Regions from separate parts of the Homo sapiens genome. Here regions 1, 3, 4, 5, 6 and 7 are each linked to region 2. The links come from fine-mapping of genetic effects on plasma protein levels. Region 2 holds a variant in brackets. A gene starts in each other region. All regions are shown on their reverse strands.

Region 1 (4,241 bases), not on the chromosome of region 2:
TAATAACTTACCCAAACAACTTGCAATAAAACAGACACTGAGAAGTAAGATGAAAACTACAGCAATAACCGAAGGTATCAGCTGGGGATGCATGCCTCCTTCCACTAGGACCAAAAGAAAAATAGAGATTAACCTCCTCTCAGCTACAAGCTAGGAAAGCTAATTCTACCAAGGAGCAATCTAAAAGTGACAGCAAACCAAATATTTCAGATCTAGAGAAGAGCATAAATATTTTCTCCAAATAAATCAATTTTAGAGCTTATTGATGAATAAATAAATAAGAAAGAAAAATGTAAAATTTCTTGGTAATTTTGAAATGAAAAGAATTTTATAAGTAAGATACAAAACCCAAGAGCCATTAGAATAGATAATTTGAGTACATAAAAATTAAAACTTCTATATAACACAAGCAATGTTAGAGTCAAGGAACGTATGAAAGGAAAGTCTTCTCATAATATTAATATCCGCACTGGATAAAGTATTTCAAAATCAACTAGAAAACTGAGCAAAACTCTGAGCAGGAAATTTGCTGAAATTTTAATTTGCTGAAGTTATAAATAGCCACTAATCAAACAAAAATATGCCCAATCAGGGAACTGTAAACGAAAAGATTGTGGTATAACTTTTCACACATCAGATTTTTTAAGTAAATTAAGTACATGCAGTGTTGGCAAGGCTGAGGGGAAATAAGCACTCTTAGTGAGAAAATAAATGCTGCTGCCTGGACTGGAAAATTAGGAATGCCTTTTAGAAGGATCAATTTAGTGGCATTTATCCATTTTTAAATGCATTTCATTTGCCACAATAATTTCAATTACAGGTGTCTATTCTATAGAAATAATTGAGCTTGTTTATGTTAAAAGATATTCATTGCAGTACTTCTCAAAATAGAAAACACATACTGTAATCTAATATTTACATGTATATTATCAATAGTGGAAATTCTAAATTATGGTCCCTTCACACAATGATATTCTGTATAGTAATTAAATAAGCATGTAATCAGTATATATTGATGCAAAAAATCTCTAAGAAATATTGTTACCTAAAAAGGTAATTCAATAGGATCACACTGTGATTACAGTTTGCCATGGTAGGGTGATGAGATAAAGTAAAACTTTAATTTTAATTTAAACATTTCCACACTTGTTCTATATATCTATCAAAAATATTATTTAATATTATCACAATACAAATCCACTGGTGTCACTTAAGTCAAACATAAAATGGGACAGTTAGAGCCTCTGATACAGCATAAGCCTAAATGCTTTTTCTACATCTTCCTTTTCTCTTTTTTCTTTAAAAGAATCTTCTCATATTACTCTCTTTCTTTTCATCTTATTTCTCTTTTATATATTTTATCTCCCCTCTTGGTCCAATATACATTTTATAAAGAAGTTTCTGTTATCCAACTTATTTGACTCTATGTCCTTCCTCTTCACCAACGTCATTTTTATTTCCTTCCACCTCCTTCTCCCCGTCATCATCAACAATCTTTAAAACTACCATCAATTCATATGTTTTAAATTAGTATAATTCCATCTGCTTCTTTGAAATGGAAAGGAGAGAAAGTACTCACGTTTACTTTGAGGTTTTTCTAGCCCCATTGTCTAATTAGTCTCTTGTTCAATGGTCAGGACGGCAAGAATTTGTTCTATTTTTTTTCCCCCAGAGTATATTTCTGTGGATAGGGGAATATATTCAGAAATACTTGAGATCGAACACCAATGTTACATATTGTAGTGAGATTAGAAAGGTACCAGTATAAGAAAGTTAGCTCAAAAGAAGTCTTTTTCAAAGACAGGGGTTTCCTTTGATACATTCCGGGAGATGAGGCGAAAAAAAAAAAAAAAGGAAATTGAGAAAGCAATACCAAACAACAGTTAGTAGAAACCCACAAGTATGTTGAGATCACTAGATCAGTGTGAAATGTGGAATTTCTCAATTTGTTTTTTTTTTCATTTAGACAAAAAATTTAGCAACGCCCTAAAAGAAATAATTGTTATGCCCAATAAAAATTTAGTAAATGTCCCCTCTTTTTAAATTCTTTTTGTGAATATTATATTTTCAAAGGCAGTTATATTCTTGGGGTGAGTTCTATACTAAAAAGTTCTCTGGACTGAATAAAAAGTTGAGTCTAAGAGAGCAAAAGACAATGTGAACAATGAACAAAAACTTTTAAAGTATACCTTGTGTGTACATGGCATGTGAAGACACAGCAACCTTTGTTTTCGAGTTGAGGAAGAGATGATAGAGCAGTTAATTAAATCCCAAGAACTTTCTAGGTGAGCAAAAAGAGTTGTGTTAAGGCAAAGACAAAGAAAATGTAAGATTCTGTGATAAAGACACCATCAGGGTCCCTGACTTCATTTATAGCACTGTTAGGGAGTGAATGTCTGTATCTCCTCAAAATTCATTGGTGGAAGCACTACCCTCCAACGTAATGGCATTTGGAGGTCAAAAGTTTGGGAGGTAATTAGGTTTAATATGAGGTCATGAGAATGGGGTCCTCATGATGGAATTATAAGAAGAGACCCGGCTAACGAGCTGTTTACTTCCTGCGGGTGCTCAGGCTGTGGCCATCTTCCTTGCTGTTGCTCTTCTCATTGGAGAAGATGGCCCTGGAGACGGTGCTGAAGGACCTGTGGCATCTGTGGGCCTGTTTGCTGTGTTCACTGGTCAAGGTACTATAGACCAGTTTGAATATGATGGTTGTGACTATTGAGATGCATATCTACAGATGAAGGGTAACTGAGAGATGCTATATGGCTGCACCAGCTCCTCCTTTGATGGAATCATTGCGATGATGAGTCCAGAGGACAGCTGGGTCTCCAACTGGCAGCGAGTCAATAACTTTAAGCCAGGTGTATATGCGGTGTCAACCACTGGTCGCTTGCCCTAAGGAATCGTGCGGGAGCTGAAAAGTTGAGGAGTGGCCTACAAATCCAAAGACACAGCTATAAAGACCAGACGCAGGGCTGCCAGCGTCTTTGCTCTCCACCTCCTGCCTCTGCTTATTTTTTGTTCTGGAACTAAATGGGCAGAGCTTCAAATGCTTCCTACCCTCCAATTCAGACTCAGCCAACTGTTGAGAGAACAGCACATCATTTTATCATTTTACCTTATTTGGACTTCAGGTGGGGGTGGGAGGGATTTGGGTTGGTGGATTAACAGATGGAATTGAGGAGAGAGTAGGATGCTGACTTTCCTACCTGTAGCCCAAGGCTGCGCCTTGCTCATGAAGAGGTCTAGGTCAAATGTCAATAAATAGAAACCTCTAGAAAGTTCTTAAGGCCATGACACCTGCCTCGCTTCCCTCTTCCTTTCTCTTAGGCACACAGTAAGAGCTTATTTGCCCTATAAGATACCTTCCCAGAGCAGCAGAGGCCCTTCCACTCCCTCTTGACTGTCTCAGCCTCCAGGATTGCAGCCTTTGTAGTGTGCTTCCTTGCTTCCTATCAGAAGGTGCTGTCCAGAGGCTCAGTAACCCCATCAGCTTGGTGGCCCTGGTGTCTTGTGCTTGTATCCTTCTGCCCTTGAGACCTGGCACAGCAGTATCCCTTGAAGAAATCCTGAGGCTTTGTCGTGCTCCTTGCTCCTTGACCATGTTTAATAATTCTTTTCCCCCTCTGCTCGTCAGTTTTCTTCTCTTTACTGCTCTTCCTATATCTTAGGCCAGTCTCACACACTCACATTTTACATTTTCCTTACTGGAGACCCTTGGGCCTTGGCCGACTGCTGGGTCCTAGTCTGCCTTGTTTGTGCCCCTGTAGGAGGCAGGTCCTTTTCTCCGCCGGCCCAGTAGGGGACCTTGGGTAACATCCCATTTTTCGGCCAAAGTGAGTTATTTGTTTTAGGATAAAAAATTTACTACAAATTCTCATTTACTTAAATTTCCACAGAAATCCTGTTAGTGTCCCCATTTTGATTTCCCTAAGTTCCTTGTTCTCCCTCTGTAAAAAAAGAATGATTACACCTTGCCTGTTTACCTCAGGAATGTTGTGATTGTAGAAACGAAGCTATGTGAAAATTATGCAGCCATAAAAAATGATGAGTTCATGTCCTTTGTAGGGACATGGATGAAGCTGGAAACCATCATTCTCAGCAAACTATCACAAGGACAGAAAACCAAACACCACATGTTCTCACTCATAGGTGGGAATTGAACAGTGAGAACACTTGGACACAGGAAGGGGAACATCACACACCGGGGCCTGTTGTGGGGTGGGGGGAGGGAGGAG
Region 2 (4,241 bases):
GCTCATGCACACCCTGCCCTCTTGCCCCATGTCTTTGCCTGGGATGCATCCTGTGTGTGGATGTTCTTCCGGTGAGCTGCTTTTCTCAGAAGCTACAGCTCAGGAGTCTCCCACTCCAGGAACCCTTCCCTGACCCCCTGGCTCACAGCCCCAGCCACTCGGCATTATCCAGTGGTGTGCTAGAGTGACTTGTACCTGCTTGCAAGAACCAATTGTTAAATTTTCAGGAATTTTACAAGGAAGTTGACATCATGTTTATAGTTTGAATTTGGCCATAAGAGTTTTTGCACCATGGAAATGGGCAGTTCTACAAAGAAGGGGTTCCCAGTTAAATCGGAGCTCCAGTTAAATGGCTTAACATTTACCAGCACATGACTGGCCATCACCTAAACTGGGAAATCTCAAGGACTGGGACTGCACCTGACTTTTCTCTGTGCTCAGCACAGAGTCAGGCACAGAAGCCAACTGGCTTTACAGTGGGGGATGACCTGGGGCCTGGAGAGAGGATCCCTGATATGAGACTACTCCTGAGACAGCTAGTGAGAAGGCAGGTGGCAGAAGGGAACGGATTGGAGAAAGGACCCTTGTGTGGCTGGTGAAAGCTTCCCTGCCATATCCTCATCCCCCGACCACACAATAGGGCACAGCTCAGCAGGCAACACAACCTTTAGTATAAGTTACAGCCTCACACTGGCTCCTAGCCCATGGGAGCCTCCAGATGGGTCTATGATATTAGTCCCCAGATGTTCATCTCTTGGGCTGGGGGTACTCCTCAGAGCTAAGTCCACCGTGGCACCCAGTCCATTCCAGACCACTGTGCAAACTCAGCCCTCATTACTTACCAGGGTTTTCTGGCCAACCTGTGACTTGGCCCCCACCCCAGGTAGCTCAGCTCCAGACTCTGGTATGTGATCTTGGTAAGCCACCTTCCTCTCTGGGCCTGTTTCTCCATTTGACTTGATTAGGCTGGACTCCAACCTAGGTACCTTGGCAGTACAGCCAGCTACTTGCATGGGAGTCAGGCCAGGGGTGTCATTGACCTTGAGCTCTTGCCTTTCTTGAAACTTAATTCCCCCAACTTATACACACAAACGATGACTAGGGGTTATGGGAACAGTTGACTCTGGACCACAGAGTGAATATCCTGAGCCCCTGTCAAATGACGGAGCATGGGGTCATCCAGCATGAGTCACTGATGGTCCATATCTGGGGAGACTGTGGCGTCTGCACAAGTCCTGGTCCTCTACAGCTTCCCAATATAAACCTGCACAGGCTGAAGTGTTCTGCTCCTACAGCCGAATGTCCTTAGTGTTCTCGCTACCAGCCGGCGTGGACTCTGTCCGCCTAGAGTCCTCACTGCTGCCCAACACATCTTCTATCCTCTGCATGTCAGTTCTGTCGGATCTGCGCAGGCCCAGCCTGCGGCGAGCCGGGGTGGCAGGGCTGGGGCCAGTGGGTGGCTTGGCATCTCGGGCAAAGCGTACGAGCCTCTGCCCAGCCAGGAAGTAGAGCACGGGGTCAAGGCAACTGTTAGCACTGGCCAGCGGCCGGGTAACCTTGTAGGCCATGTTGATGGCGTTGAGGGTGTGGCAGCTGAGGTCCAGCGAGCGGAAGGAGTAGTAGAGGGTGCGGGTGACGTGGAATGGCAGGAAGCAGAGGGCGAAGACAGCCAGCACCACGGCGATGGTGCGCACGGACTTGCGCTTGGCCCTAGGCAGGCCGCCCGAGGTCCCGTAGGCTGGCTTTAGCAGTCGCCGAGCCATGAGCACGTAACAGACAAGGATGACGGCAAAGGGCACCGCGAAGAGCAGGCCCAGCATGACTGAGCTGTAGGCCACGAAGCGGCTGAAGAGCTCGGGTGCCGAGGTGTCGTGGCAGGTTACGCGGCCCCCGCGCGCGCTGGTGGTGACAAAGTAGAGCACGGGGGCCTGGCAGGCCAGCACCAACACCCACACGGCCCCGGCCACCCGGCGAGCGTAGCGGGCCCGGCCCCAGCGCAGGGAGCGCAGAGGTCGTAAGACGCCCAGACACCGGTGCACGCTGATGCAGGTGAGGAAGAGGATGCTGCAGTAAAGGTTGGTGTAGAAGAGGAAGCGCACCAGCTTGCAGAGCACCGTGCTGAAGGGCCAGTGGTCGCCGCGGGCGTAGTAATAGACCAGCAGCGGCAGGGAGGCCGCATACAGTGCATCAGACACAGCCAGGTGGAACATATATGTGGTGGACGCATTCCAGGTCTTGAGGCGGCACAAGAAGATGTAGAGCGCCACGGCGTTCAGACACAGCCCA[G/A]GCACGCACACCACGCCGTAGGACACAGGCAGCAGCACGTACTTGAAGTCCTCGTTGAAGCGGCACCTGTAGCCCAGCTCATCCCCATCCCAGGTGCCATTGATGGTGTCATTCCAGGGGCCCAGGTCTGCTGCCATCGCCCTGCAGGGAAGGGAGGGGTGGGGCCATCAGGGTTGTGGCCGGAGCGCCCCTAGGGGACCTGACACAGCCACCTGACCAGGGCTTTCATTGCCATCTGACTTGGATCTGGACCTGGAACCTCCAAGCTCTGGAACCTTGAGAATGCATGAGATCAATGAATAAATATCAGGATCACACAATTGTCAAACTTGAGAACAGGGGTAGACAAACTATAGTCCAAAGGCCAGATCCAGTCTGCTTTTGTAAATTCAGCTTTGTTGGAACACAACGGTGCCCATCTGTTTACAAAGAGTTGAGTAGTTGTGATAAAGACCATATGGCCTGTGAAGTCTAAAATATTCACTATCTGACCTTTAAAAAAAGTTAGCTCAAGCTGGCTACGGTGGCTCATGCCTATAATCCTAGCCACTCAGGAGGCCAAGGCAGAAACCAGGTGTTTAAGCCCAGCCTAGGCAACAAAGTGAGACCCCATCTCTACAAAATTCTTTTAAAAATTAGCCAGGCATGCTGGCACACACCCGTAGTCCCAGCTACTTGAAGTTTTCTTACCCCTCTCTAGAACCTCAGGATCAGAGTTTTAGATCTAGGATTCTGAGCTCTAGAATCTGAGGACCTGGGGGTGCCAGAGCAGGTAATTTTGAGTTCATGGGAAGGGGCCTTTGAGGCTGGCTGGCCCTGCTTCACACCCAATGCCTACTGCCTGCAGAGGCATTTCTGGCCAGTGGGCATCCAACAGCCCCCTGCAGGCATTACAGAGTTCTCTCCAGCTCATTTTCCCACTCTCTGGGAGGCTCTGGGCCCATGCCTAGTGTTCTGGTATTTGAGGAAGTATTTCCAAGGGTCTCCTTCTTCAGTTATTCCTTCACTTTTTACATCTTCCTCTATTCTGGCACTTTCTATATCTATCAACAGCAGTCCTGCCCCTGAGCCTGTGAGGCTACCAGGGAATCCCCCTGAAGTAACCCCCGTGAAGAGTCCAGGGAAATCTGGGTTGGAGATAGGGATAGGGGGCCAAGGGATCTTCTTTTGTGTGGTAAATGCAGCTTCTTCCATGCCTATCCAGTTTCTCTCTGCATATCGTCAGTATCATGGTGTCCCCCCCAACCTTGTCCCCACTGAGCATATAACACACCCATGGGGACTGACCATCCAACAGACAGTGAGTGCCCAGGGAGCAGCTTGTCCCCTCCCTCTCCTCCTTACCCCTACCCAGGTGACCAATTAAGAGCTCTCTCGCAGCTGGGAGGTAGAGGACAGACATCCCGGCCTGGAAGACAAAGACGTGCCTAACGTCCCAGGAGGCAGGTTGGAAATCATAGCAGAAGTCCTGGGTGGGCAAGTTTGAGAAAAACACAAAAAAGCACTTTCTAGCAGTGTGAAGGGGCAGGAGGAGCTAACATTTTTCAAACCCTACTACTAAGCATGCTTTCTAAAAGTTATTCACTTAGGCCGGGCGCGGTGGCTCACACCTGTAATCCCACCACTTTGGGAGGCTGAGGCGGGTGGATCACTTGAGGCCAGGAGTTCAAGACCAACCTGGCCAACATGGAGAAACCCTGTCTCTACTAAAAATACACACACACAAAATTAGCCTGGTGTGGTGGTAGTCCCAGCTACTCGGAAGTCTGAGGTGGGAGGATCACCTGGGCCCAGGAGGTGGAGGTTGCAGTGAGCTAAAATCATGCCACTGTACTCCAGCCTGGGTGACACAGCAAGACTCTGTCTCAGAAAAAAAAAAGTTACTACACTTTATCCATATGATGTGTTCTGGGGGCCAAGTCACCATCCCCAGTTCTCCAATCAAGAGGCTAAGA
Region 3 (4,237 bases), not on the chromosome of region 2:
CAAACGTCCATCAATGGATAAATAAAATGTAGAATGTGGTTTATACATACAATGGAATATTATACAGACTTTAAAAGGAACAAAATTCTGACACATGCTACCACATTGATAATTGTTGAAGACATAATGCTAAATAAAATAATTTAGATACAAAAGGACAAATATTATATGATTCCACCAGTATGAGGTGCCTAAAATAAACCAATTTATAGAAACAAAAAAATGGAACGGTGGTTTCCAAGAAAGGAGAAAGGAATTGGGATTTGTATTAGGTCTGTGCAGAGAAAGAGGATCAATACGCTGTGTACATACATAGAAATAGGTTTATTATAAGGAATTGGCTTGTATGATTATAGAGCCTGGTAATTTAAAATCTGGAGTGTGGGCTGCCAGACTCGGCCAGCGAGTGGAGAACTGGGAGAGTTGATGGCTGAGTTCCAGTCCATAGACAGCTGGGGGATTCTTTCTTATTTGGGGGAAGGTTAGAAGCTTTTTGTTCTTTAGGCCTTCAACTTTTGGATGAGGCCCACCTACATTATGCAGCGAAATCTACTTTCCTCTTCTGATTAATATGTTAATCTCATTTAAAAGCATCCTGTCTGGGAACCCCATGACCCAGTCAAGAAGACACAGAAGGCCAGCACGGTGGCTCACGCTTGTAATCCCAGCACTGTGGGAGGCTGAGGCAGGCGGATCACTTGAGGACAGGAGTTCAAGACCAGCCTGGCCAACATGGTGAAACCCTGTCTCTACTGAAAATACAAAACAATTAGCCGGGAGGGGTGGCGGGCACCTGTAATCCCAGCTACTCAGGAGGCTGAGGCAGGAGAATTGCTTGAACCCAGGAGGCGGAGGTTGCAGTGAGCCGAGATCATGCCATTGCAATCCACCCTGGGTAACAAGGGTGAAACTCCATCTCAAAAACAAACAAACAAACAAACAAACAAAACACATGAAATTCACCATCACAGGAGTTATTGCTTGGTGGGTATAGAGTTTCAGTTGGGGAAGATGAAAAGTTCTGGAGATGGATGGTGGTGATGGCTGCACAACAATGTAAATGTACTTAATGCCACTGAACAGTACACCTAAAAATGGTTGAAATGGTAAACACTTTATGTTCTATAATATTCATGGCATCCAAAATAACTGAGTCACTGTAGAAATGATAATGTGCCCTTTTCAGTGTGATATCGTTTCAGTATTTTTTAATTCTTTTTTTTTTTTTTTTTTAAAGGGAGTCTCGCTCTGTTGCCCAGGCTGGAGTACAGTGGCACAATCTCAGCTCACTGAAAATGAAAAGCATTTTCATTTTCCACCTCCCAAATAGCTGGGATTATAGGCTTGCAACCAGGCCCAGCTAACTTTTGTATTTTTAGTGGTGACAGGGTTTCAACAGGTTGGCCAGGCTGGTCTCGAACTCCTGACCTCAGTGATCCACCCCCCCCCTCAGCTTCCCAAAGTGCTGAGATTACAGGCATGAGCCACTGCACCTGGCCAACTTTTTCAATTTGTTCTCAAATACTCTGCACATAATAAAAGGAATATAGGAAACAGGGAGGAGGAGGGAAATGGAATCCTAATTAGGCTGTCAATATTGGTAATTTTTCCTAATAGTTTCCTATATGTTTTATTTATGTATTTATTTTTCCATTCTTCCTTTGTGTATTCTTTTCTTTGCACTTTTTTTTCCTGGAGTAATTTAAAGTAAATGCCAGATATCATATCATTTTGCTTATAAATACTTCCTTCAGAAGACATCTCTAATAGATATATATCTGGTTAGGAGGTTGTCAAGGGAAAATAGAAAAGTATTCTATCAGTAAATACATATAGACATACTTATGGGTCTCTCATGTAAGCGTCTTTGTGACATGAGTCAATCATGGATTTTACTGAAATACATTATTTGATGGGTAATTCAACTGTGCTGAATATTAGTACTATACTAATAATTATTATTTATTGGCTTCTTATTATGCTCCAAGTACAAAGCTTGTCATTTTTAACCAGCGTGTCATTTGAATTCCTATAGCAACGTGACATTTTTCACAAACCTAGTGTAAAAAAGCTTATTATTTTTACCCAGCATGTCATTTGAATTCCTATAACAATGTTATCAGGTAGACATTATCCCTAATTTCCAGACATGTCATTTGAATTCCTATAACAATGTTATCAGGTAGACATTATCCCTAATTTCCAGACAAAGACATAGATTCAAAGTATTAAGATTTCCCAAGATTGTAGACTAAAGGAAAGTACTGAAACTAGCTCTTTCTGCATTCAAAGTGCTCTCTGCTGCTACGTTACACTGGCACTGCATGAACTAGTAGCCCCAGATAAATTCTAAAATCACCCAGGACACACCATCGCTGGAAATGGGAGCCATATGTGATTCACCCCAAAATTCTTAGATCCATTGCCAGATAAAACAGTGAAAATCAAAAGAGAATATATCTGATTCGTAAAAGACACCATATAGAAACAGTCTGCTAATGAAATTAGCAAACAAACATTGGAATCAAATATTTTGGCCCATAATTCTGGCACATTTTTTACAAATGTAGTGTGACTTACTCTCTTTGAATTTCAGTTTCTGTCTCTGAAGAGTGGGTACAATATCTCTCCTCTGATGCTCATGAAAAATAGTTTTCCCTTTCATAAATTACTTAGCGAAATATCCTGAAACACCTTCAGAATCACCACTTTCTCCACCTGCAATACACATAACTCAAGAATTTGCGTCAGCGAACTTCCCAATATGAAGCAAAGCCTCTCCTTCCTCCTACCAATGATTGAGTCATTCTTCTATTAGATAACAGTAGCTATTTAAATACTTCTGCAGAAGCTCACATATTTTTAGTTTGTTGAAGTTCGTGACTGCTTCACTCTCTCATTCTTAGCTTGAATTTGGAAATGACTTTTGATGACCTAAAGATCCAGACTGTGAAGGACCAGCCTGATGAGAAGTCAAATGGAAAAAAAGCTAAAGGTACTAGGGATGGGAAAATGTGTACAGGGAAAGAATCCCAGTGTTAGCCCCAAAATGTAAATTCACCGAAGAATGGGATTAGAAAGCTAAACACCCAAGTATGGGAAAATAGAATTAATACCATTTACTTAAAAGAAAAACAAGAAGGCTATAATGATGATGATGATGACAACTTATTTATAACAATTTATACTGAGTATTTACTACAGGTTATTCTATATGTTATTCACTTTCAGAGTATTATTTCTCAGAATCTTCGCAATAACATTTTGAGATTGGTACTATTACTATCTCCCTTTTACAGAGAGCTAACTGGGCATCAGGAGGACTAACAACATCATCCAGTTTCACGGAGCTAATAAGTGGTAGAGCTAGGACTGTACCACAAACTCCCATTTATCCAGAATTCTATACATCGGAGGGCTCGGGAACCAAATTTATCTGGTGTATATAACGATAATTTCTGTAAGAGTCCTTCAGGCACTACAAAAACCTGAAGTACCTCATGAATTATGCAGGCAAAGTAAATGATATTCAGTATAGTTTAGCATAAGTTACATTTTGTTGTGTACTACTGCTTTGAAAAATTGTAAGTTCTGTTTGACCCATACAGTAATTAAATTGCATAGCTATAAATTAATTCATAATCCCAATTCCACAGACAATCTGGGTAAATTGCCTTTTATTCTATATCTGTTCTGAGGAAAATGAACAGAATATAAGGAGAGAAAGAGAGACAAGTATTGTCAGAAATTTGGATAAAGAAATTCCAAATTACATTTCCAAAAACAAAACAGAAATTTCTCTCAATAGAGAACATAAGTGTGAGCATGGAGTGATTTAACATTTGAGCCAATGAACTAAATTGCTATAAAAACTGCTGATATTTATAGGTAAAACCAGAAGTGAACAATAGTCATTCGTTTCTTTACTCATTCATTATTTGTGTAGTAAATATTGAGGGTCTGAATTTTACAATAATCATGAGATTGATTTTTCTTTCAGAATCTTGGTTAGATCGGTACCTACTGCAAAGAATCGGATTGGTTTATGATTGGAAAATCACTAGTAGGGGCAGCAGTTGGATTAATGGTCTCTGCCTACCAAGGACACAGGACAAAGAGAATCTATAGAAAAAGGGAACACATACCTTCCTTCACAGGGTCCTGTGATTTTCTTTTTCCTCTAAAAATTTAGTTTTTCATTATTTAAGAGTGATGAGGCCAGGCGCGGTGGCTCACG
Region 4 (4,241 bases), not on the chromosome of region 2:
GGGCCAAGGGAAAACTTTTCCATTGTTCTCTGAAGGTTTGCTAAAAAAAAAATTACTGTCAAGAGGCAGATCAATAGAAGAAAAGGCATACACATTTATTTGATCATAATTTTACACAACCCGAGAGCCTTTAGAACAAAGACCCAAAGTTACAAAAGAAATTGTCCATTTTTATGCTTAGGTTCAACAAAGTGTGGGCAGGTGTGGAGAAATACAACTGGACAAAAGGAATATGATCTCATGCTAACAGACTGAGTGGGGACGCCTGGCAAGGTGAGATTCTTCCTGGTATCTCTGTGCAGTACTCATTCCTTCTGGGTATGGGGCAGGACCTTCTTTGGAATGGGGTCTTATGAGCTACGATCAAACAAGGTAGGTCAGATAATGTCTTTATGGCCAGATTTCACACAGAAAGTTGAGGTGTTAGAGTGATATGCTTAGGTTTTATGGCTGGTTTGGGAAAAAGGGTTCTGGTTTCTAGGAGCCACCTTGGGAAAGAGGGATTCTAGTTTCTATGCCTCGCCTTGGGGGAGAATGAAGGGCCGGAGACTGGAGAGCAGGAGAAGGTCAGAGAGAGCTGATTCTGAGGTCTTCATTTGGGGTATCATTTTTCTGAGCCCCTACACCCTAATAAAGCACAAGAGATGCAGTGGAGCAATTCAGGGTCACGGTCAGGCTATGCATTGAACTGAGATTTCCCAAAAAGTCTACTGAACAGTAAAAAGAAAGTAAAATGGATCCTGGGGACACCAGACAGAGGCTGACAAATGATTTTTAAGTAAGGAGAAAATGATAAAAGAGAAGGATTAGCAATAGAAACGGGTCATATAAAATAGATCCCTCAAAAGGAATTCTCTTAATCCCTAGCTTCTCTAGATATCCCACAACCTCAGGGACTTATCAGGCAGGTTGTTTTTCCCTGAAAGTGGGGGTAAGGGAGCTGGAGGACAAATGAAGGTGGTATGTGGAGGGAAGGCTGTTCTGTGGATGAGTTTAATTCAGCCCCACAATCACTTCTGTACAGCTACCCACCGCTCTAGTCATTCCCACATTTGGCCTGCTTTCTTTTCCTCTGTGGACAGGGGCACTGTTCTCTACTAATATCCATCTCAGAGAGATACAGGGGCAAGTATCCCTCAGCATCCATTAGAAATAAAGCAGGCTCTTGCTTAAAGTTACCAGAGCATCCACCTCTGGGTGCAAAGACAAATTCTCTGAATCAAGTGAGGGGTCTGGGCAATGATCTCACAAGGATTTGATACCTAGGAGTCCCCCCATGCCCATACAAGCTCCTCATCTTTCCACTTACACTTTGGGAAGCTGGCTGTCGTGTACAGGCAGATGAAGCTGGAAAAGAGAGGCATATTCAGTACTCACGAATTCAAACAGCTTGAGGGATTTCCGGTGAAAGTCAGTCCTAACCAGTGTATACGTACATACACACCAACATGTGTGAATGTGTTGTGTGCACGTGTGTGCCTGTACAAGTCCACATGGCATATTTACCTGTCAGGGACAGGCTATGGACAATGACTGTTTCTTGGACTTTCTCTTAAAAAGTCAGATCAGACAAGTTTATTTTGTATACTTTGGGTAAATGTGTGGTATTTCGTGAGTTTGGCAGTTTGTGAAAAAAAAAAAAAAAAAAAAAAAAAAAAAAAGCTGCCTGCTCTGAGCCCATGGGGCAGGGGCAATTTTTTCATCTGACAATCTGCGTGCTTTTGTTTTGCTTGCTTATTTTGGCCCCACAATACCACACCCTTTTCTTAACTAACCTCTTTCTACCTGGGCTGGACGTGCCTGGGCTCTCCTCCCTGGCCCCGCTCCCACCTCTCCCAGGTCTCTAAACCCCTAGAGAACCTGTGTCAGTGTTTTGAATCCCTCAGTTGCTCTAGCAGGAAAACTAGACAGATTAGGAGCTGGGGCACATTTGGCTGAAAGACAGCTCTTCGCTTTCTTCTTATGCTGCTTCCCCTTCCTCTTTTCCCAAATAGATATATAAACACATGTATTTTCCTGTTTAAATTGAGCGAATTGGTCCCCTGCCTGTGCCTTGATTTAGCCATTGGGCTCAGCCTTGCTCCTCCCTTCCTTACTCGGATAGGAGCCACTGGGATCTGGAGCTCCAGCTTCCAAATTGAAGCTGGCCTCAGGCCAGGTGACCTTTTCTTTGTAAGTTTCTTTCCTAAGCGTGGGGTTGGGGGGAGGCGGGGAATGGGGGGGGTTGCAGGGATCTGTTTGGTGCTGTTGAAGGGGGGGCGAGTGAGGAAAGGAGGGGGCTGGAAGAGAGTAAAGGGCTGTTGTTAAACAGTTTCTTACCGTAAGAGGGAGTTCAGACCTAGATCTTTCCAGTTAATCACACAACAAACTTAGCTCATCGCAATAAAAAGCAGCTCAGAGCCGACTGGCTCTTTTAGGCACTGACTCCGAACAGGATTCTTTCACCCAGGCATCTCCTCCAGAGGGATCCGCCAGCCCGTCCAGCAGCACCATGTGGGTGACCAAACTCCTGCCAGCCCTGCTGCTGCAGCATGTCCTCCTGCATCTCCTCCTGCTCCCCATCGCCATCCCCTATGCAGGTTAGTTCCCTTCTTCTTCTTCATTATTAGTATTAGTATTTAACTCTCCTGCTAACCTTCCCTATTCCTTTTAACACCCTCTTTTTACCCTATTCCCAGCATCCTTTCTGAACTCAGTATGTAGTATAGGTTTCTAAAAGCTCTCATTATGCTTTTTTTGACATTCTTTTTTGTTGTTGTTTGAATAGCATTTAAAATGATAATTAACTTTCCCTCAACTCCCCTCCACCTCCAACCCAAGCCCCGTCCCACTTAGCCTAATAGTTGTGGATTATGAGATAGGGAGGAAGTGCTAATACTGGCTGAACTTGGCTGCTTTGGACAAGTTTAAAGCTAAAGAGAGGGTCTGGTCTGAAGAGGCAAGAGTGATGGTCAGTCCGGCAGGAAGTCATCCTTTTCCAGAGAACAATTTTTCATGATAATGCACTACTCCACATCACCTAGTCAACATTTGGAGCCAAATTACGACTTTGTACAGGTTTTCATTTTGAGGAGGCAGAATAAACTCTGAGTATTTGCATATCATAAAAATGAAAGAGAAAGCCTCTTTTTAAAGATCTTATTCTTTCTGGGTACGGATGCCTGCCCTTTGAAACTGCAGTGCACGGAGACTTTGATTAAAGCTGCAGAACTGCCCATCTCTGTCTCCCACTTTCTCCCTTGGATTTGCCGTTTGGGGAGGAGTTGCTTGAAAGTTCATATTGCTTGGAGATTTAGAGATCTCGTTTGCTGCTCTGGGAAGTTTCTCTTGTTATCAGGGCAAGAGGAAACATCTGTATTTTGTTGTATCATTGTAGAGGCTGAGGTGCCAACGGGAGAAGGCAGTGAATATCAAGGGTAGGCGCAGGGGAATAAAAGAGTGGGAACAAATGCCCAGATGGAGACATGGCCTTTTTACAATATAAAAAAGAGAACTGGCTGTATCTTTTGAGATGGTAAATATGACATTTATCAGACCTTTGATCTAGTTTTTGATATGGTACAAGGGTTAAAAAACTCAAGAATTTTCTAAATGCAAAGGAAAATCATTCAACCCACCTGGTTTTCTTTTATTTTGTGAAGTGGCCCGTTTGGAAAATGACACTGTTTGGAAAGGGTCACTCTGAAAGCATTTAGGTAAGATTTCTGAAGAAGTGAAAAAGCAGTGAGTTCAAATCAAGCAGGTTATCATGCTTGACATGTGTCATGTTAAAATCGCTTCACAGGGTCGGGTGCGGTGGCTCACGCCTGTAATCCCAGCACTTTGGGAGGCCGAGGCGGGCAGATCACGAGGTCAGGAGATTGAGACCATCCTAGCTAACAAGGTGAAACCCTGTCTCTACTAAAAATACAAAAAATTAGCCAGGCGTGGTGGCAGGCACCTGTAGTCCCACCTACTTGGGAGGCTGAGGCAGGAGACTCTCTTGAACCTGGGAGGTGGGGGTTGCAGTGAGCCGAGATTGTGTCACCGCACTTCAGCCTGGGGAACGGAGCAAGACTCCATCTCAAGAAGAAGAAGAAAAAAATGCTTCACAGATGACTGCTGGTTTAGGGGATTTTGAGCTTAAATTGAAATAATGGCTAATATTTTGAGGGTTTTCATTTTTAAAGATTAAAATGTCACTGTTCTTAAGTAGAATCTGGTTACCTGAATTCATCTGTGCTAACGCAAGGGGAACGCAG
Region 5 (4,241 bases), not on the chromosome of region 2:
CGTCCCGGCTGTACACGCGAGTGAAGGTGAGCGGCGTCACCGCGCTCCACAGTGCGAAGGCGCGGGCAAAGGCGTCGTCAATCACCGCCCGCGGCAAGTCTTCCGAGTAGTTTTGGATCCTGTAGCGTAAGAGCCAGAGGAAGGAGGTCAGAAGTGAAAGGCTGGAGCGGGGCAGCAGGGACACCCCATATCGCAGAGACTTCAACATACACAATGCTCTCTGCCGTCCACGCTCTCATCTATAAATTGCTTCCAGACTGTTTTTTTTTTTTTTTTTTTTGTCTACTTAGACCCTCACAATGGCCCTGGCAGGAGGACTTGGATTGCAAGAGCCATTTCCCTGAAGGAGAAACAGAGGCTCAGAGGTGGGGACACTCCCCAGGGGCCACACATTAAATAGTGAAACCCAGGGACGCGTCCAAGACAGGACATGTTCACCGCTGGCCCAAGAGCCAGACCTGGCCTCCCCGCCCCACCCCGCTGCCCCCACGGCCCCGGCTCACCAATAGGTGATGTTGTGGTGGTGCCACTTGAGGTCGCCCTCAAAGGTTTGGAATCTGCCCAGGTCTGGGACCCCGCACCGTGGGGTTCGCATGGCCTTCAGCGTGGCGCTATCCAGCTCACCGGTCTCGGGCAGGGACAGTTGCTTCTGGAGAAGCAGCAGCGCAGGCCCCAGAGATTTCGACTCTCCACGCATCTCTGCCACCCGAGTGTAACCATAGCGGTACAGGTATTCCTGTGGATGAAGGGACACACACATGCCAGATCTCTGACCCCTTTCTCTGCCCAGCTGGGGCCAAAGGACTCCCTCCAGACACTCATGGAGGGAGTCTTTTTTCTTTTTCTTTTTCGGAGAGACGGTATCAGCCCACTGCAGCCTGGACCTCCTGGACTCAAGCGATCCTCCCATCTCAGCCTTCTGCATAGCTGGAACTACAGGTGCACATCACTGTGCCTGGCTATTTCTTTAATTTTTTTGTAGAGACAGGATCTTACTATGTTGCCTAGGCTGGGCTCAAACTCCTGAGCTTCAGCGATCCTACCACCTCAGCCTCCCAAAGTGCTGGGATTACAAGTGTGAGCCGTCATGCCCAGCAGGGACTAACATTTAATAAAGCATTAAATGCTTTCCAGACACCAGTGCTTTCTGACCACCCAGGGATCTCCCCTCCTTAGACATCCTCAGCTCCTTCTCACCCCTGGATGCCTCTAGCCCATTTCTACCCCACAGCTGCATAAGGTTTGCCCCTGTTCACTCCCAGCCTATGCTTACCCCAGAACCCTCCAATGCCTCCCCCACCCCAAACCATTTCCCATTTCCCACCTAGGAAAGCCCCATTGCCCATTTCTGGCCATCACTGCTCAAAGCCTCCACAAGACCCCCCACTGCCTAACCCTGGACACCTCTGTTCTTCAGATACGCCCATCACCACCAACACACCCCTAAAGCATCTCCTCTGAGGCCCTGCATCCTCTCTGGGACACTCAACACCCTCACGGACAGCCCTCCCCAACTCTAGACTAGGTGTTTGCCCACCTCTGCCAGCTGCCTGTCGGTGAGATTGGTTCTCAGGTCTCCAGGGAAGAGCACAAGGGTGGACTGGCGCTGTCTGGGGGCAGCAAAGCAGCAGCCCAGCACCAGGAGCACCAGGACCAGGGGCTGCCAGAGGCTCATGGTGAGGGCAGAGGTGTCTGACTGCAGCTGCTGTTGTGGGGGCTTTAAGGAGGCGCTCCTGTGACCCCACCCCTCCTTGACAGGCAAGTGCTGACTCAGGGGTCAGGGTGTGTGTGTGTGTGTGTGTGTGTGTGTGTGTGTGTGTGTGTGTGTGGCAGCACCAGCATGAGAAAGGGCTTACACCACCTCCTCCTCTCTCCACTGCCCGCAGTCTCCACTGCCAAGTCAGGCAAGACCCCAGACCCGCAGGAAACCGCAGGCCCTCAGGGGAGGGGTAGGGTTTTGCAAACTGCAGAGCTTGTGGGAACTGTATGAAAGGGAGGGAGGGGGATGAAGCTGGAGGGATCCCCCATCCCTTGGTCTGAAAGCCTCCAGTGGTCAGCCAAGGGAAAGTGATGGAAGACTCCCTGAGACTTCTTTCTGAAACTAATGATCCCCCTGGCCCATCCTTGGCCTTTTGCAACACCCCCTCCCAGGTCAGATATCCTCCCCAAACCCCTCCCCACACTCCAGGCTCTGTCCTCTTTTTCCCTCCCTGACAGCCTTCTTTGACTCAGCTTCCTCTCCCTGCTTCATCTGGGGGCGGAAGGAATGGGCTCTGCTAGGCAAGGCTGGGGAATTCCACTGGGGCAACCCCCTGTCTTCCGCAGGCTGAATCTTCAGGGCAGTAAAGGGGACAGTAGCAGCCTCTAGAAAACAGCAGACATGGCTTTACTCTCTTCCTTCAGGACCTCGGGCAAATGTCTTACCACTTTGAAGTGTTTCCTCAGCTGTAAAAAAAAAAACGGGGGGTGGGGGGCTCTTTGTCCCTAAATTGATGTGAGGATTAAATGAGATCAAACATATAAAATGTTTAGAACACTGTAGGTTGTAAGTCCGCAACGGATGGTGGTGATTGGTTTTAATTACTAAGGCCAAGACCCAAGATTCAGGGCCAGGTATGGTGGCTCATTCCTGTAATCTTAGCACTTTGGGAGGCCGAGGTGGGAGGATTGCTTGAGCCCAGAAAGAAGGTCAAGGATACAGTGAGCCATGATTATGTCACTGCACTCCAGCCTGGGCAACAGAGCGAGACCCTGCCAAAAGACCATGATTCTAACTTGGAATCACCAAACCAGGTTATTGGGCTCTAAGCTGCAGTGTAACCTGGAGTAAATGCCTTCCCCTTTGTCAGCTTAGGATTCTTCAACTGCAAATTGGGGCAGGATATGGGGGAAAATAATCTATAGGAGCCCTTTCAGTTCTCCAGCCCTGCTCCATGCAGCCAAATCTCCAGCCCCAATTATCACACTTATGCCAAGCCTCCCTCCCAAGCCTCCCACACCAGCAGCCTCCCTCACTCCTTTCTTCCTAGCCAGCCGGCATCGGGCAGGGTCTATATTCACCTTCTTCAAAGCCCTATTTGGGAAAAACCTGCTAACAACTCAAAAAGTTGTATTTATTTATTTTATTTTATTTTTGGGGGGTGTAGTATCACTCTGTCACCCAGGCTGGAGTGCAGTGGCGTGATCTCGGCTCACTGCAACATCTGCCTCCCGGGTTCAAGCAATTCTCCTGCCTCAGCCTCCCGAGTAGCTGGTATTATAGGCGTGCGCCACCACGCCTGGCTAAATTTTTTGTATTTTTAGTAGAGATGGGGTTTCACTACGTTGACCAGGCTGGTTTCGAACTTCTGACTCAAGTGATCTGCCCACCTGGCCTCCCAAAGTGCTAGGATTACGGGCATGAGCCATGGCGCCCGGCCCAATAAGCTGTATTTAAAGGGCCTACTATGTGCCAGGCATTTTATATGCTTATCTAATAAATGAGACTGTGAGATGGAGATAATTAACTTCCTTTACAGAAAAGTTGAAGTTCTAAAGTTCACTAACCAATGAACATCTGCTTTGCAGTCACGAAGTCCTGGATTTCCATCCCGGCTCTGCCATTTTCCAGCTATGTGACCTTGGGCAAGTCACTTTACCTCTGAACCATAATAATAATAATGCATTTTTTGAGATTTACTGTGTCAAGCACCGTAATAAGTTCTCTATAAGCCTCTCGTTTCATCCTCACCACCTGTAAGGTAAGTTTAATGAGTATCCCTCCTGTTTTCAGAGGGGGAAACTAAGGCTCAGAGAGTTAAGGAATTTGCCTGTGATCACAGAGCGAGTTAATCCACAGAACTAGTGTTCAAGCCCAGAACTGCCTGGCTCTGAAGCTTTTCATCTTTATTACCATTTACAGGGAACTGTGATGACCCAGGTATAGAAGTGGGTAGGTGGATGCGGTGACAGGGGCAGCACATAAAACCTGGATGCTTCTCCTCTGGTCCCCTGCTACCCACTGAAGGTAAGAGAGGAGGCCCAGGCATTTAGGGAATCAGAGGCTAGGACAGGGGACCCAGGAGGAACTAGATTCTAGACTCGGGAATGTGAGGTCATAGAGTAATATGAGTTTAGAGGAACAGATCTTCCAATCTGGAGGATCTTCATCTGGGTGGCAGACACGGGCTTTTAGGAAAATCCGTTAACTACCCCCCACTTGCCATCAATGGTACCAAACATGACATACAATACATATCTAT
Region 6 (4,241 bases), not on the chromosome of region 2:
CGAGACCAGCCTGGCCTACATGGTGAAACCCCGTCTCTACTAAAAAAATACAAAAATTAGCCAGGCATGGTGGTGGGCACTTGTAGTCCCAGCTACTCGGGAGGCTGAGGCAGAGAATTGCTTGAACCTGGGAGGCAGAGGTTGCAGTGAGCCAAGCTGGCGCCACTGCACTCCAGCGTGGGTGACAGAGTGAGATTCCATCTCAAAAAAAAAAAAAAAAGAAAAGAAAAAAAAAAAGAAGTAATTAAGGTAAAATTGGCCAGGTGTGGTAGCACATACCTGTAATCCCAGCTACTCTGGAGGCTGAGGCAGGAGGCTCGCTTAAGGCCGGGAGTTCAAGGCTGCAGTGAGCTATGAAAGCACCACTGTACACTTAAGCCTGGGCAACACAGCAAGACTTTGTCTCGAAAAAGAAAAAAAAAAGGAATAATTAAGGTAAAATGTGAGTGGGCCCTAATCCAATGTGAATGGTGTCCTCATAAGAAGAGATAAGGCCAAGCGCGGTGGCTCGCTCCTGTAATCCCAGCACTTTGGGAGGCTGAGGCAGGTGGATCACCTGAGGTTAGGAGTTCGAGATCAGCCTGGACAACATGGCGAAACCCTGTCTCTACTAAAAATACAAAAATTAGCCTGGCGTGGTGGCACACGCCTGTAATCCCAGCTACTCAGGAGGCTAAGGCAGGAGAAGCGCTTGAACCCAGGTGGCAGAGGTTGTAGTGAGCTGAGATCGTGCCACTGCACTCCAGCCTGGGTGACGGAGCTAGACTCTGTCTCAAAAAAAAAAAAAAATCGATTAGGCCACGGACAAGCAGAAGGAACATGATGTGGAGATACGGGGAGAGACAGTCATCTACAAGTCAAGGAGAGAGGCCTTGGGAACCAGCCCTTGATTTCAGACTTCAGCCTCTAGAACTGTGAGAAAATAAATCTCTGTTACGTAAGCCCCCCAGTCTGTGGTACTTTGTTATGGGAGTCCTAGCAATGTAATCTACCTGCTCTCCTTACCTTCAGTGACTCTGAGCCCTGGGCCCTGTGCCTGACACCCTCATTAACTATGTGCAAAGAGTATGGTCTTTGGGCCTCGTTTGAATGCCTTCTTTTCTTGGTGGGTTTTTTGTTTTTTGTTTTTTTTAAACAGGGCCTTGCTCTGTCACCCAGGCTGGAGTCCTGTGGCATGATAATGGCTCACTGCAGCCTCAACCTTCGGGGCTCGAGCGATCCTCCTGCCTCAACCTCCCTAGTAGCTGGGACTTCAGGTATGCACTACGATGTCTGGATAATTTATTTTTACATTTTCTGTAAAGACACAGTCTCGAAGTCCTGGGCTCAAATGACCCTCCTGCCTCGGCCTCCCAAAGTGCTGGGATTACAGGCGTGAGCCACCATGCCTGGCCAAATGCCCCTCTCCTCTTAACTATTCATAGGTGACCTCAGACAAAGCAACCTCCTCTCTCTGCCATGAGGAGACAGCACGGCCTCCCTGGACCACAGGATAGATAGAATAAGATAAAGGCATGTGGCTGTTTCTCACCAAGCGTGGTGGTCGGTCAGCCACAGCTGAAAATGGCCTAGACCCCTCTGCTCAGATCTGGCGCTCCTTCCTTGAGCCAGCCCCTAAACTTCCCAGAGCTTCGAGCTCCTCACTGAAGTGAGCTGAGGTGTCACTGCCCAGCGGCTTCTCTCCCCTGGCTGTTGCAGGATGAGATCGGTGGCTGGGTGCTGTGGCTCACGCTTGCAATCCCAGCACTTTGGGAGGCCAAGGCAGGAGGATCATTTGAACCCAGGAGTTTGTTATCAGCCTGGGCAACATAGTGACACCCCGTCTCTACAAAAAATAAAAAAATTAGCTGGGCATAGTGATGCATGCCTGTGGTCTCAGCTACTCAGGAGACTAAGGCGGGGAGCCTTGCTTCAGCTTAGGAGCTGGAGGCCACAGTGAGCTACCTACAATGGCGCCACTGCACTCCAGCCTGGGTGACAGAGCAAGATCCTGCATTTAAAAAAAGAGAAAAAAAGACGAGATCAGGGATGTGAAATGGAGAAGGATCCCCTCTTGGCATGGCCCCAGGAAACAGCATTGTGGGGGTGGGCACAGAGATGAGGACTTCAGCGGAAGCGACATTCTCAGGATGAGAATCCAGAACTGGCCCCTGGGGGTGGTGAGGGGGAGGTATGAGGCCTGGTGTGGTGAGTCCCAGCCTGGGTGCCGGGGAGTGGGTAGGGGCTGAAGAGCAGCCTCCTGGGCGTGGGGTCGCCTATTTTTGCCTACTACGTGATCCTCAGACCTGGGAGTGGCTGGTGCAGCATGGAGCCAAATAAAGGTTTGTCGAATGAATAAATGAGTGATGGGGAGAATGGGTGGCAACTGCCTTGGTGGCCACAGTGGGCATCGGGAGCAGGCATGGACAGGGGTGCATCCAACCTCCTCCTTTCTGGCTGCCCCAGCTCTCCTTGCTCAGGCGCCCCAGACCCCATGCTCCCTCCAGCTGGAGCAGCTCAGGCCTCCCTGGCAGCCTCCAGGAGTCCCACCCTGACTCCCCAGACTCCTGAGGGCCTCCTCCCACCCGGGCTTCTTAGGGTGCAGGCCAAGGACCCTCCTCTGGGCCTGGGAGATGTGCTGACCAGGCAGGGTCTATAGGCCTGGGCCAGCCTCTTGGCCTCCCTGTCTGCCTTCACCCAGGCCTCAGTTTACCCCACAGTAAAGTAGCAGTTTGACTAGGGAGGCGCTGTTCCCAGGGCCCTTTCGCAGAGGACCAACCTAAGATCGCTATCTTTCAGAGAAAGTGAAACCTGGTCCCCAACTGTCAAGGCGGCAACTCCCCCTCCCCGGCTTCCCCTCTGAGCTCACAGCTTCCCCATCTCCTCCTTCCCCCATCCCGCCCCCTCGACAGCTAATACTTGGAATCAGACCTTCATCTTTGCTTTTTCCTTCAGAGGTCTTTTCCTTTTATGTCCATGCTGGCAGCAACCCTGTGAGGTGGGCTGGGAAAGGCTTTTCTCCTCCTCATTTTATAGTTGTGGGTCTCTGAGGCCCAGAGAGGTTAAGTGACTTGCCTCAGGTCACACAGCACCTCAGCAGGCTTGAACCCTGGCCTCCTGTTTCTCTTGCTCCAAGTGTCCAGTTCTCCCCAGTGGAGCCTGCCTACAAAGACAAGGCCTGGCTTTGGGGAGTGGGCCTGGCAGAGGGTGCACGATGGGGGAAAGGAGACCGTCGGGAGCCGGGCTGGGGGATGCTGGTCCTGGGGCCTGAACCACAATCTCGGGGCTGCCAGCCTGCGTCTGGCTCTGTGCCCAGAGCCCGGTGGTTTCCGCTCACAGATGTCCCAACAGCCCCGGCGAGAGGGCAGGAAGGGCACTCAAGAAGGAAGATGTCTCGCTCCCCTCAGCCCCCAACCACCGTGTCCTGTGAGGCCAATGGCTCCTGGGCCAAGACTGGCCTGGGGCCTCCAGAGGCCCAGCTCGAAGTCCCTCCTGCCCATCCCTGGCCCAGTTCCCTGAAGATGGCATGGACCCTTTTCCTCCCCACTCACCCTAGGAAGGCTGAGGCTGCGGTTTTACATCATCCTTGGGCGTAGGGCTGACCTCGAAGAACGAATTCGAAGAAAACAGGAGGAGGAGCGGGCATACACCGCGCCCTGCGCCCATTGGCCGCCCGTGGAAATTTTGGTTTTTGGGGTCATGTTCCCAGAAGGCCTGCCCTCCCCCCTCCCCATCCCCACCCACCTCATGAGGTGTTGGCCAATCGCCCCAGCGGGCATAAAGTGGCTGCCAGCCTGCAGGGCTCCCAGCCGAGAGGTGTCACCCCCAGCGGGCGCGGGCCGGAGCACGGGCACCCAGCATGGGGGTACTGCTCACACAGAGGACGCTGCTCAGTAAGTACTTCCTTCCTCCCCGCCAGAACCCGCCTGCTGGGTCTGCCCACGGGTGCCGGTGGGGAGCAGAGGCACCCTCTGCCCTCCGGGAACTGGGGAGGCCAGGCGCCAGGCAGAAGGATGCTGAGAAGGGGAGAGAGCCAGGAGGTCAGGCAGAGAGAGTGGTCCACTGAGAACCTGGCATCTCCACAGGTAGAGAAGGGGCATCCCTGGAAGGCTTCCAGGGGGAGGTGATGTCAAGATGTAGAGGCAACTCTGGGAACCAGGGGGTGAGAGAATAGGATGGGCAAAGAGGCTGGGCAGGAGAGGGAGGCTCAGAAGCTGGGCAGGGAAGTGGTGTGAGGTGTGGAGGGGTTGTGGGGCCTCCAG
Region 7 (4,241 bases), not on the chromosome of region 2:
ACGGACACACATATACCCCTCAGCATACACACACATACACCTCAGCATATATACACATACACTCCTCAGTGTACACACATGCCTCAGCACACACACACCTTCAGCACAAGCACACATACAAACACACCTTGGCTACACACACCCATCAGGGTATATACAGACACCTTGGCATACACAGACATACACATCTCCGCAGACACACCCCCCCTTAACACACACACACACACACACACACACACACTCACCAGAAAGGGGTGGGAAATCCAGTGCAGCTGTGAGGACTGCCCTGGGAGCTGGGCCAGGAGCTACCTGCCCCTCCCTGAGGGCCTTGTCCCTGCAGTTCCCTCCTGGTCAGGCCCTGCTCTCTCCAATTCCCTCTTCAGTGTTGACTCTCCCCACCCAGGAATTCCTGCCCAACCTCCCGCCCTAGGGCTGTCCTGGCATCGGGCCAGGTTGGCTGAGTAGAAAGATGACAATCCCAGGGCTACCCTTTCTCCTGTGTCCTGGGGATTCCTGCTCACAACAGCACACAGTGAATGCACGCTGCCCTGAGGGCGCAGTCTGAATGGGGTCAGAGTCTATAGGGGCGCGGGCACACCCAAGCAATTCCCCAGTGAGATCCGCGGAAAGGGGACTGTATCTGCAGGGGCAAGGGGGGCGGGCGGATTGGGGAGGAGCTCATTCGAGGACACCCTGAGGCTGCAGGGCAGGCAGGACAGGATGGGGACCAGCACAGGATGGGGACAGCCTGTGACTCAGACAGGCAGGAGGTCACCAGAGGGGCCAGGGAGGACCAGGAGCTGCTGTGGCTGCTAATAATATGGGAATGGACCTCTGCTGAGCACCTTCTGTGTGCCAGGCATTGAGCTAAATGTTTTTAAAACCTCACTTGATTCTCCAAACAGTAATGCCTACCACACACCTACCCCATGAGGTAGGTATTATTTTTGGTTCCCACAGGGGACACAAGGGACAACGAGACTCAGAGAGGGGAAAGCATTGGCCCAAGTTCACACGCCTCACAACTGGGCAGTAGGTGGAACGGAACCCAGGCTGTGCGGAGGGCTTCCTTGAGGTCGCGGCAATCAAACCCAGACCCTGACTTGCCCTGCAGCCTCCCCCGTGGAATTTCTCACATTTCCCTGAATATTCCAGGCCCGTCTCACCTCCTGGCTGTCCCTTTGGCATGAAATGGCCTTCTGTCCTCAGTCCCTTCTCTGGGAAAACTTCCACCCATTCTCCAGAGCTCAGCCCCCAGTGCAGCCCCGTCACCTCATCCTAGGATCACCCCACCCTAATCGCCCTGCGTTTCACTGTCGGGCTGGGCCCCCCTCCTCAAGGGCAGGGTCTGCCGGCCCCACACAGCAGCACAGGGCAGTCGTGAGTGAATGTGCCTTGTTGGTGAATGAATGCAGGACCCAGCCCGGCTGTGGGTCAAAGTAGGTGCTCAGGGAGGGGCCGGGGCCCCCCCTGCCTGGCTCTTATCTCCTAGGGCTGTCTCGAGCCTTATCTGATAAGGCCTGACAGGTGAGCAGATGAGACTGACAGAGGCTTCCAGGTTACTCAGTAACCTGCCCTCTTTAAAAGTCCCGCCGCTTCCCCCTGGCATCCAGAACAGCCACCCCTCTCTCGGGCACTGCTGCCATGAATGCCTTCCTGCTCTCCGCACTGTGCCTCCTTGGGGCCTGGGCCGCCTTGGCAGGAGGGGTCACCGTGCAGGTGAGTCCTGTGTCCCTACCCCGGCCCAGCTGGCTCCCTGCCCCTAGTGCCCAGGTCTGGTCCCCTGAGAGAGTACCTCCTCTTTGGGGCTGGATTGAGGGTGTGTGTCCCAGGCTTGGCCTTCTTCGAGGAGCTCCTGCTCAGTCCAGCCACACACACACCTTTCCCTTCAACTTTGGAGGAGAAAGAAACCCAGTGGAGGGAAGAGGAATAACCATATGGGGAAGGCGGGGAGTTGGCCAATTTACTGAGTGTCCTATGTGCCGGCTCCTTCCCCAGCCCCTCACTGTGGCTCCACTATCAACCTGGAAGAAAGGGATCATTAGTCCCATTTTACAGAGGGGAAAACTGAGCCTCACAAAGGTTCTGTAACAGGCCATGGGCACATGGCTGTGGGAAGTGCAGGAGCTGGATTTAAATCCAGACCTTACTCCTCAGTGGGTCCCAGGAACCACATGGACACCCTGGAGGTCCTGACAGATGGGTATGCCTACCAGTGCCAATGCTGGCGACAGGCCAAGCTGGCACCTAGCGGGGGCCCTGATCTCTATCAAAGCCAGATTCCGGGAGGCCTTTTATTGCTTCTCAAACCAAAACCAGGCTGCAGGCTGGAGCTGGGGGCCCAGTAATCAGCCGCACCGCTCTCAGGCAGGGGAAAGACAGCCTGGGCTTGGCCACGTGGAACTACGATGCCTGGGTGCTGGTCCTTTGCCTCTCCCTAAAAATCAGCACACTGGCTCCTACTCATTAGGCACCTATGGTGTTCCTGGAGCTTCACACCCATTTTCTCCATTCCCCATACAACATGCAGAATTTGCGGGTTCCAGAGTGTCCAGCATCACGGAGCCAAGCCAGGACGTGGGGCCTGAACTCTGCCCCTCACAGTGCCCCACTGTGGATCGCCTGGCTCCCATATGCCACGAACACTGCCTGTGAGCACCACTGGGCTGGACCGGGGCCAGCACGGGGGGCACAGCCAGGAAGCAGGCTGCAGCCTGGCCTCATGCTCTGGGCTTCTCTCTTCCAGGATGGAAATTTCTCCTTTTCTCTGGAGTCAGTGAAGAAGCTCAAAGACCTCCAGGAGCCCCAGGAGCCCAGGGTTGGGAAACTCAGGAACTTTGCACCCATCCCTGGTGAACCTGTGGTTCCCATCCTCTGTAGCAACCCGAACTTTCCAGAAGAACTCAAGCCTCTCTGCAAGGAGCCCAATGCCCAGGAGATACTTCAGAGGCTGGGTGAGCAGCCTCCTTCCTCTCTGATTGGTGGGGTTCGGGAATACTGTGGTGGCACTTGAGGAAGAGATGTGCTCTGATTGGTGGGATTTGGAGGAAGGGCTCAGCTCTGACTGGTGGAACTAGGGAGCTTGGCTCTGATTGGTGGGTCTGTTCCATGCCCACTTCAATTCCAAGTTGTAACTGCTGAGGTTTGGGAACTAAGACCATTCATCTGGTCTTAGTTTCCTCTCTTTCTGGTGGAATCTCTGCTTTGATTGGTTGGTTTGAGTGGTCTGTGTGCCCTGGTTTGGGGCGAAAAGCCCAGTAGGTCAGAGTACGGGCCTGCTGAGATTCTCCTGGGGCTGGGTGGTGACGTACAAGCTCTGGGCCAAGGGCGGCAGGGGCCTCGCGAGGAAATGCTGGTTCTCACGAGGCTCCATCTCTGTTGTGCAGAGGAAATCGCTGAGGACCCGGGCACATGTGAAATCTGTGCCTACGCTGCCTGTACCGGATGCTAGGGGGGCTTGCCCACTGCCTGCCTCCCCTCCGCAGCAGGGAAGCTCTTTTCTCCTGCAGAAAGGGCCACCCATGATACTCCACTCCCAGCAGCTCAACCTACCCTGGTCCAGTCGGGAGGAGCAGCCCGGGGAGGAACTGGGTGACTGGAGGCCTCGCCCCAACACTGTCCTTCCCTGCCACTTCAACCCCCAGCTAATAAACCAGATTCCAGAGTACTCTGGGTGTTGCCTTCCTTCCTTCCTTCATCCCCTAGTCTATCCTGCCCTGGAAGCTCGGGATGTAATGTACTAAGCGAAGGACCCCACTCTCCCTGCTAAGCTGCTCACTGTCCCTGGGGCTGCCACAACACAGAGGCGTGGAGAGGATCTGGATCTCCAAACCACCAAGGCAGCGGGTGGTGGGGAGGGTTTGCTTTTATTTCACATCTCCTGAGGTCACCAAGTTCACTGAGCCACATGTGAGCACGGGAGCCAGTCTGAGCTGGTTTGGACAACCAATACAGGCACTTGGCCCACTAGAAGACTGGCACCAAACTCTTGGGTATTCAAGGACTTGGCTCCCACCAGCCATGCTAGTGTGGCCTCCAGCCCTGACCACATCCCAAACCACACCTCTTGCCATTTCCTCTGCTGCTGCTCACCTCTCCACTGCCCGTCTTCCCACACTACTGTCCAGGCAAACTCCTACTCAGGGTCCAAGGCTTTCATTCCACGGCCTCTCCTCAAGACAACTTGCTCAACCCCCCAGGAAGAGTCTCAGTGCTCCCATTGTGACCTTGACCTTGGTGCT

Alleles and levels. Positions count from the first base shown, and alleles are read on the strand shown. Strength reflects both the effect of a copy and how common the allele is.
With allele A in place of G in region 2, the plasma level of the protein whose gene starts at base 1,837 in region 1 is higher (moderate association).
In carriers of allele G in region 2, the plasma level of the protein whose gene starts at base 2,865 in region 3 tends to be lower than with A alone (moderate association).
As copies of A replace G in region 2, the plasma level of the protein whose gene starts at base 2,416 in region 4 goes up (weak association).
For the plasma level of the protein whose gene starts at base 1,694 in region 5, A is the high allele of the variant in region 2 and G is the other (moderate association).
As copies of A replace G in region 2, the plasma level of the protein whose gene starts at base 3,787 in region 6 goes up (moderate association).
For the plasma level of the protein whose gene starts at base 1,612 in region 7, A is the high allele of the variant in region 2 and G is the other (weak association).

Evidence for each region. PIP is the chance, under the fine-mapping model, that this variant and not a neighbour inherited with it causes the effect. Protein levels are from antibody-based Olink assays in UK Biobank. Linkage for the fine-mapping came from a reference panel and not from the study's own genotypes, which makes the PIPs less certain.
Region 1: CLEC4D starts here. The variant in region 2 is fine-mapped to the plasma level of the CLEC4D protein (UK Biobank, PIP above 0.99).
Region 3: OLR1 starts here. The variant in region 2 is fine-mapped to the plasma level of the OLR1 protein (UK Biobank, PIP above 0.99).
Region 4: HGF starts here. The variant in region 2 is fine-mapped to the plasma level of the HGF protein (UK Biobank, PIP above 0.99).
Region 5: MMP9 starts here. The variant in region 2 is fine-mapped to the plasma level of the MMP9 protein (UK Biobank, PIP above 0.99).
Region 6: OSM starts here. The variant in region 2 is fine-mapped to the plasma level of the OSM protein (UK Biobank, PIP above 0.99).
Region 7: it holds the start of GUCA2A, and the variant in region 2 is fine-mapped to the plasma level of the GUCA2A protein (UK Biobank, PIP above 0.99).

The regions. Positions count from the first base shown.
Region 1 is chr12:8,511,099-8,515,339 of GRCh38, reverse strand. It overlaps CLEC4D (C-type lectin domain family 4 member D), which reads right to left and starts at 1,837. Exons shown (of 6, transcript NM_080387.5): 1 at 1,580-1,837; 2 at 12-104. The coding sequence starts at 1,607. It also overlaps the pseudogene SUPT4H1P2.
Region 2 is chr11:73,232,342-73,236,582 of GRCh38, reverse strand. P2RY2 (purinergic receptor P2Y2) reads right to left here. Exons shown (of 3, transcript NM_002564.4): 3 at 1-2,427. The coding sequence starts at 2,423. The coding sequence ends at 1,290. Among named protein-coding and RNA genes, the nearest start is that of P2RY2, 16 kb to the right of the region's middle. The variant G/A (reference allele first, on the strand shown) is at 2,287.
Region 3 is chr12:10,170,760-10,174,996 of GRCh38, reverse strand. It overlaps OLR1 (oxidized low density lipoprotein receptor 1), which reads left to right and starts at 2,865. Exons shown (of 6, transcript NM_002543.4): 1 at 2,865-2,995. The coding sequence starts at 2,920. It also overlaps a transcript of TMEM52B not described here.
Region 4 is chr7:81,768,222-81,772,462 of GRCh38, reverse strand. HGF (hepatocyte growth factor) reads left to right here and starts at 2,416. Exons shown (of 18, transcript NM_000601.6): 1 at 2,416-2,579. The coding sequence starts at 2,492.
Region 5 is chr20:46,006,361-46,010,601 of GRCh38, reverse strand. It overlaps MMP9 (matrix metallopeptidase 9), which reads right to left and starts at 1,694. Exons shown (of 13, transcript NM_004994.3): 1 at 1,538-1,694; 2 at 504-736; 3 at 1-119. The coding sequence starts at 1,675.
Region 6 is chr22:30,266,397-30,270,637 of GRCh38, reverse strand. It overlaps OSM (oncostatin M), which reads left to right and starts at 3,787. Exons shown (of 3, transcript NM_020530.6): 1 at 3,787-3,872. The coding sequence starts at 3,839.
Region 7 is chr1:42,162,116-42,166,356 of GRCh38, reverse strand. GUCA2A (guanylate cyclase activator 2A) reads left to right here and starts at 1,612. Exons shown (of 3, transcript NM_033553.3): 1 at 1,612-1,719; 2 at 2,747-2,954; 3 at 3,387-3,667. The coding sequence starts at 1,645. The coding sequence ends at 3,451. RefSeq lists an enhancer at 788-1,752.